Homo sapiens: one gene and its partner. The protein of the gene in region 1 purifies or fractionates together with the protein of each later gene. This does not show direct contact. Each region holds a gene or a part of one and is shown in the gene's direction. Other genes may lie near its edges.

Region 1 (4,028 bases):
AAAACATCATCCTTAATTTGACAATGACTCCATTTTAAATGTCTAATACATTGTCCAAAACTTCCTGAAAGATAGACAAATTATATCCACTGCTTCTCTCAATAATTTGTGCCTAATTATCCTTTCACTGAACACTAGGGGATCACTTGATTGACACCTTATAGAAATATTGTTGCTTTTAAGCCGGCAGATAATATTGCTTACTCCTCTTTCTGTCTTTTAAGCCCTCTGGAGTCTGTCTCCACCCTACCCCTCCATTAGCAGGCCATATTTCCCACTGCTTATTGATAACGCATCCTTACTCGACAAGCTCATCTCTCCTTTACCCTTAGACAGGCTGCCCATATTTCTCTGGACATTGTCACATAGTTACTTCTGCACCCCTACCCGTTCATTTGAAACCTTTCCTTAAAGTTTCAGCTCAAGCCCTGCTTCTCCAATAAACTTTCCCTGATTTCTCTAGTTGTCATTTTCTTCTCTCTTCTCCAGGAAACATTTTTAAGGCAGCCCCAGCCAGTTTGTCATTTATTTATTTACTTATTTTTATTTATTTTATTTATTTATTTTTGAGACAGAGTCTCACTCTGTTGCCCAGGCTGGAGTGCAGTGGGGTGATCTCGGCTCACTGCAACCTCCGCCTCCCAGGTTCAAGCGATTCTCCTGCCTCAGCCTCCTGAGTAACTGGGATTACAGGCATGCACCACCACGCCCGGTTAATTTTTGTATTTTTAGTAGAGAAGGGTTTTCGCCGTATTGGCCAGGCTGGTCTCAAACTCGTGACCTCAAGTGATCCACCTTCCTCAGCCTCCCAAAGTGCTGGGATTATAGGTGTGAGCCACCGTGCCCAGCCCTATTTATTTTTTAATAGTTAAACATTATTTTTGGGGAGAGGAAGGTTGGTTCTTAGGCAAGGCTTTCTTGACCAAAATGTTTTATTTTTTTACATTGAACAAAATCCCTGATTCTCAATGCTCATCATTAAGTATTCAATGAGCAATCAATGATTCTACTCTTTATCCTTTATCTCAAAAAGTTACATGGATCTGAAATAGGCACTCATGGGCATGGGGCTCCAAGCCCCCTTCTAAAACCCTTCTTAGAGATGGGACTCATTGCCAACTTGTACTTTCTTCGGTAGAAATCAAGCCTATTCCTTTTGGCAGTGGTTCCACAAGCTCACCCTTGAGTTCCTTCAGAACTCTTTAGGTAGTCTTCTAATGGTAGTGGCATCAATAGAAAGAAATTGAGAGATAACCGTGACCTTAGAGATCACCCAGTACCTACTACAGCACTTACTAGATACTTCTTTAATTGAGTTGCCCAAGGGCACAGAACGTGATAGTAGATGATTCGGAACTACTGTAGAACTTTTCCTAGTTCTCCTGATTTCTAAATTGAAAGCATTTTTCATCATCATTGATTTTTCATTTCGTATCTATGATCTTTCATTACCAAGCCAAAAAATTTTTTTATTCAGTCTATCTTCTCCTTTGCTTTATTTTTCTCCACACCCCACAACCCCCGACCCCTTGAAGCTCAACAAACAGGATCCTATGCTTTCTTTAGTCTTTCTTTTTTATCTTACACATCAAGAGGTCCCACTGATTCTCTAACTGGCTTCCTTCATTTGATTTATTAAAAGCACCACTTCTCTTATTTGCTGAGTAGAATGCTCCTCAAATACTTTTCTGGCCTTCCTAGTTTCCAACTTGATTCTGAGGAAGATCAGAACAGGATGAAAGAGACAAGTCAATTATCACAGGCCACATGAATAAGTAACAGAGTGTGACTCCTAGACCCAGGACTTATGGATTCCTGCCCTTGAGACTGGTTTTGAGTGGTTTGTGCTGAGGAGATGGAGAACAGTCTTTGGTTTGAAACTGTAGTCAAGGAAGATTGACCCCGAATGATTGGAGGGGTAAGAGAGTGACCTACTAAGAAGCACCAACGTATTCCCAAATCAAAATATTCTTTCACTGTGATCATGGCCTCCAGTATATCTTCATTCTTGTCTGGAAAAAAAAAACTCACTATTAGGAAGTTTTCCCTTTTACATAAGCTGGATCTAGTCTACTGTATTTTTAATTCATTTTCTCTTATTTTTACTGTGGGGTTTCATATTACTTTAATAGCTGTTTATATTTGTAAGGTGCTTTGCACTTCCCATATGCCATGTATGTGGCCCTATTTGGTCCTGGGAACAATACCATGAGGTAGATAAGGAAGACATTGTCCTCATTTTATAGGTGAGTAAAAGGAGACTCAAAGATGATGTGAATTGCCTATCATCTTGTCTAAGGACCCACACATAGCTCATAAACATTAAAGCAGGCCAGGCATGGTGGCTCACACCTGTAATCCCAGCACTTTGGGAGGCCGAGGCAGGTGGATCACCTGAGGTCAGGAGTTTGAGACTAGCCTGGCCAACATGGTGAAACCCCATCTCTACTAAAAATACAAAAATTAGCTGAGCCTGGTGGTGCATGCCTGTAATCCCAGCTGCTGAGGCAGGAGAATTGCTTGAACCCCGGGGGCAGAGGTTGTAGTGAGCCAAGACTGTGCCACTTCACTCCAGCCTGGGCAAAAGAGTGAATCTCCGTCTCAGAAGAAAAAAAGAAATTAAAGCAAATAACAGAAGCTAGGTTTTCTGTTCTTGGGCTCAGCACTCTGCCCACTATACAAGTTTCCTGTTCTGGATTATTATTGTAGCCTTTTAGCCAGTCTTTTCTACTTTCAAGTATGTCCTACTCTGGTCCTTGAAAGAGGTATTTTTAGAACTAATAAAAGTAAATTATAATTGTACCCAAAAGACTAATCTTAGGAAATGCCTAGCCCTATAGTATGGTATTGTTTGAACTCAAAACAGGAAGAACAAACCACAGCCAATATCTCCTCAGTACCTAGCACAGTGCATGATACATTCTGGACATGTGATAAATATTTTAAAATTAATTTTGTTATCTAATCCCCATCAACTTCTTTGAATAGTGCTTGGCACACAAAAGTCGCTACCTTTTGTGAAGAATAAATGAATGCATGCTAGAGGTATAACAAGGTGCCGGGAAGCACCGAAGAGGGAGGAGATGAGGTTCCCCAGTTGAGGTTCGGGAAGCCAGAGAATGCTTCAGGAAGAAGGTGGTATCTGAGATGAACCTTTGAGGGAGGAGAATGATGGAGAAGGGTGAGTGGGGCAGTCCAGGCAGAATAAAAAATATGAACCATGGCTCCACAAAAATGCATGGCATGTTTAGGAAACAGTGGATAATTTGATGTGCCTGAATCATCAAGTTACTTGCTGTTTCCAGTAAGAGTGTATAAGGAGAAGAGGCTGGAGAGGGAGACTGAGAGCAGATTGTGCATTTGGCTTTTGTCCAAAGGCTGAGGGGAGTCATTAAAGGTTTCTGAGCAGAGGAGCGACCTGCTCAGAGCCATGTTGAGGAAGTGGAGGGACTGGAGTTTGTTCCTGAGTTGTTCTGGCTGCTGGCTCCTGCCCTGAATGCTTTTAAGCTTTCTTAGCACAACTTAGGGGCGAGTACTCATTTTAGGGCTCAAGTGACCCGCCCACCTTGGCCTCCCAAAGGGCTTACAGGCATGAGCCCTGGCCTTGCCTGTTAGCAGTAATTTAAAGACTCAATTCTATGCCACAAACACTTACGAGGCATAAAGGGCACCAAAAGTACTTGGCCAGAAAGTCAGGAGTTGTTCTTTACTCCTTTCTCTCTTTATACATATGTATGTATAAAGATCATTTGAGGCCAGGAGTTCGAGACCAGCCTGGCCAACATGGTGAAACCCTATCTCTATTAAAAATACAAAAAAATTAGCTATGCATGGTGGTACATGCCTGTAGTTCCAGCTACTTGGGTGGCTGAGGCACAAGAATCACTTGAACCTGGGAGGCGGAGGTTACAGTGAGCCAGGATTGAACTACTGTACTCCAGCCAAAGCAAGACTCTGTATCAAAAATCAATCAATGAATCAATCAATCAGTCCACTCAGGAGTCAGTTATATCTGAAGCCTATATGGC
Region 2 (3,500 bases), on another chromosome or scaffold:
GTGTGGTGGCAGGCACCTGTAATCCCAGCTACTTGGGAGGCTGAGGCAGGAGAATTGCTTGAACCGGGGAGGCGGAGGTTGCAGTGAGCCGAGATCGCGCCCTTGTACTACAGCCTGGGTGACAGAGCAAGACTCTGTTTAAAAAAAAAAAAAAAAAAATTAGCTCGGTGTGGCGGTGCGTGCCTATAGTTCTAGCTGCTTGGGAGGCTGAGGTGAGTGGATCATGTGAGTCTAGGAGTTTGAGACTACAGTGAGCTATAATTGCACCACTGCACTCCAGCCTGGGCAATAGAGCAAGACCCTGTCTCTTAAAAAACATTAAAATATTGAGTAGATACTGAAGAACACTTATAAAATATATGTAAGGCATAAAATAATAACAATACAATGAACCCATTTACTCACCACCTAGTTTGTTTTATTGTTTTTTAATTTTTTTTTGAGACACAGTCTTGCTCTGTTGCCCAGGCTGGAGTGCAGTGGCACGAATTCGACGTGCTGCAACCTTCACCTCCTTCAAGCAATTCTCCTGGCTCATCCTCCTGAGTAGCTGGGAATACAGGCACACACCACCACGCCCAGCTTATTTTTGTATTTTTAGTAGAGATGGGGTTTCACCATGTTGACCAGGCTGGTCTCAAACTCCTGGCCTCAAGCGATCTGTCCATGTCAGCCTCCCAAAGTGCTGGAATTACAGGCCTGAGCCACCATGCCTGGCCCCACCACCTAGTTTAATTAATACAACAGTACCATTACCTTTTAAGTCTCTGGGAGTCCCTCTCCTGAACCTCCTTCTGTCCCTCACCTGTCATAGGTAATCACTATCCTGAATTTGTATTCATTGTTATCTTGCTTTACTTTATAATTTGTACACGTGTTTATATTAATGTATTTTTAGCTTTTTTCACATTTTTCTAAATGGAATAATAGATTGTACTATTTTTGTGATTTGCTTCTTTCAAGTAACATGATATTCTTTAAATTCATCTAGGTTGTTGAATTAGCTATAATTTGTTCATTTTTCATTACTATATAATGTTATTGTATACATACACCACTTTTTTTTTTTTTTTTTTTTTTTTTTTTGAGGCAGAGTCTTGCTGGGTTGCCCAGGCCGGAGTGCAGTGGTTGCAATCTCAGCCCACTGCAACCTCCGCCTCCCGGGTTCAAGTGATTCTCATGCCTCAGCCTCCTCAGTAGCCAGGACTACAGGTGCCTGCCACCACGCCTGACTAATTTTTTTGTATTTTTAGACAGGGTTTCACCATGTTGCTCAGGATGGTCTTGAACTCCTGAACTCAAGTGATCCACCCGCCTCAGCCTCCCAAAGTCTTAGGATTACAGGCATGAGCCACTGTGCACGGCACTTTTTGCTTTTTGAAAACAGCTTTATTGAAGTATAATTTGCATAACATAAAATTCACTCATTTTAAGTGTACAATTTTATAATTGTGTAACCATCACCACAACCCAATTTTAGAACATTTCCATGACCCCCAAAATATCCCTGTACCCATTATACTATTTACTTCTTTATTCTATTCTGGACAGCCATTTGGGTTATTTCTAGTTTTTGTTTGTTTGTTTGTTTTTCCAGTTTCAAATAGGGTTGCTGTGAACATCCTTGTACATGTCTCTTGGAATATATGTTTGAGAGTTTCCCTGGGGTTGTATTTCTGACAATATAATTTCTAGATCATTAGGGTAGGCACAACTTCACCTTTACTAGATAATACCAAATTGTTATGCAAAATGTTTGTACCAATTTGCAGTTCCATAAATGTGTAAGTTGTTCCACAGGATCCTTGGCTACACCTGAGAGTGTTCTGTTTGGAGTTTTGGAGAGATTAGCATAGATCCTGCTTTGCTTTATGAGTGACAGATGAGAAAACCAAGACTTAGAGAAAGGAGGAGACATTCAAATTTAGTAGAGTTTGGGAGTCCTGTGTTTTAAGAGCTTTTCCTTGGCCATTAGCCCACTGTCTCACATTCATAACAAGGCCAATCCTTAATCTCTCTTCCACCTTGCAAGGCATTATAGCAAAGTATCTAAGCCCATGGACTTGGCAATCAGACTGCCTGGGTTCAGATCCTCTCCTTGCTACTTACTAATTATGTAATTTTGGGCAAGTTATTCTCTGTGACTTCGTTCAGTCAGATGAGAATGATGATATTCCTTTGACATAGGGTTATTATGAATATTGGTATATAAGGTGCCTAGAAGACTCCCTGGCCGTTAATTAGTTGTCTTCCTTGTCTTTCTTCACAAAGGTACATGCTTTCAGGAATCCTCAACTTTGAAGACTGGCCACATCAGGCCAGCTGTGGGCCTTCGCTTTGAGGTGGGGCCTGGAGCAGCTGTTCATTCCCCCCTGGCCTCACAAAATGGCTTCCTACATTTATTGCTTCATGGCTGTGACCTCGAGCTGCTCACTTCAGTGCTCAGTGGCCTGGGGCCCTTCTTGGAGGATGAGGAGATCCCGGTGGTAGTCCCCATGCAGATTGAGCTTCTGAACTCCAGCATCACCCTAAAGGTGTGAGGAACCTTTGGTTTTTGCCAATGTAAGGGCACATTGGTTTTTGCCCTGGACTTTGTCAAGCAAGGAAGCAGTGACACCTGTTAACCTCTTCCCTTTTCACTGTAAAATATGGTGAGGATCAAGTGAGGAAATATTAATACATATTTGCATTCTCTGTCAGTGTTATAGTGGTATATAAATGTGTGTTGCTGTCAGAAAAGCCAGGGTTCAGGTGAGGAGACCTTGTCTGTAACCCTAACCCTGTCTTTGGCATGCAGCATTACCATGTGCAAGCCATCAGGTTATCTGATTCTCAGTTTCACCATCTCTAGATGGGAGAATCTGCCATGCCTCTTATACCTTCCAAGAATGTATGGACAAACTGGCATAAAGCTGCTTCAAGCTGAATGATGGGAGCATGGGTTGTGTTAAATTGCTCTGAGCTGGTGGGGGGCATCATGTGGTTTCTCTCTTTCCTGCAGGATGATATCCCCCCCATCTATCCAACATCTCCAGGCCCCATCCCCATCACTCTGGCCATGGAACATGTTGTGCTGAAGAGGAGTGATGATGGTGTGTTCCACATAGGCGGTGAGTCAGGCTTGTCAGCCTGTTGGTTTCTCTGCCTTTTCTCCTAAAAGTGAATAGGTGACACCTAGGAACTGTTTGGGAGTTGGCAGCAGTTTGTCACTTAGAACCTTTACTTGTTTTCTCCAGCTGCTGCTCAGGACAAACCATCAGCTGAAGTACTTAAAAGTGAGAAGAGACAGCCCCCAAAAGAACAGGTGTTTTTGGTGCCCACAGGAGAGGTTTTTGAACAGCAGGTGAGGACCTAACAGAACAGTAGCTGCCCATAACCCTTGGGGGCTATACTTGTGAAACTGGTAAAACCCGGGGTTGGGGGGCAAAAAGGTTGCGTGTGCTGCCTGCATGTGGGTGTTTTGGGTTCCTGTCACCTAGCAGCGGCTTCTAGAAGTGCTG

Evidence for each region.
Region 2: the proteins of MMP24 (region 1) and BLTP3A purify together in Homo sapiens (affinity purification with mass spectrometry; one large-scale study listed by BioGRID and IntAct). This does not show direct contact.

The regions. Positions count from the first base shown.
Region 1 is NC_000020.11:35,229,440-35,233,467, forward strand, and holds part of MMP24 (matrix metalloproteinase-24 preproprotein), read left to right. Parts: intron 1-4,028. UniProt on the Homo sapiens protein: Metalloprotease that mediates cleavage of N-cadherin (CDH2) and acts as a regulator of neuro-immune interactions and neural stem cell quiescence.
Region 2 is NC_000006.12:34,868,583-34,872,082, forward strand, and holds part of BLTP3A (bridge-like lipid transfer protein family member 3A), read left to right. Parts: intron 1-2,271; coding exon 2,272-2,534; intron 2,535-3,001; coding exon 3,002-3,110; intron 3,111-3,236; coding exon 3,237-3,343; intron 3,344-3,500. UniProt on the Homo sapiens protein: Tube-forming lipid transport protein which probably mediates the transfer of lipids between membranes at organelle contact sites. May be involved in the retrograde traffic of vesicle clusters in the endocytic pathway to the Golgi complex.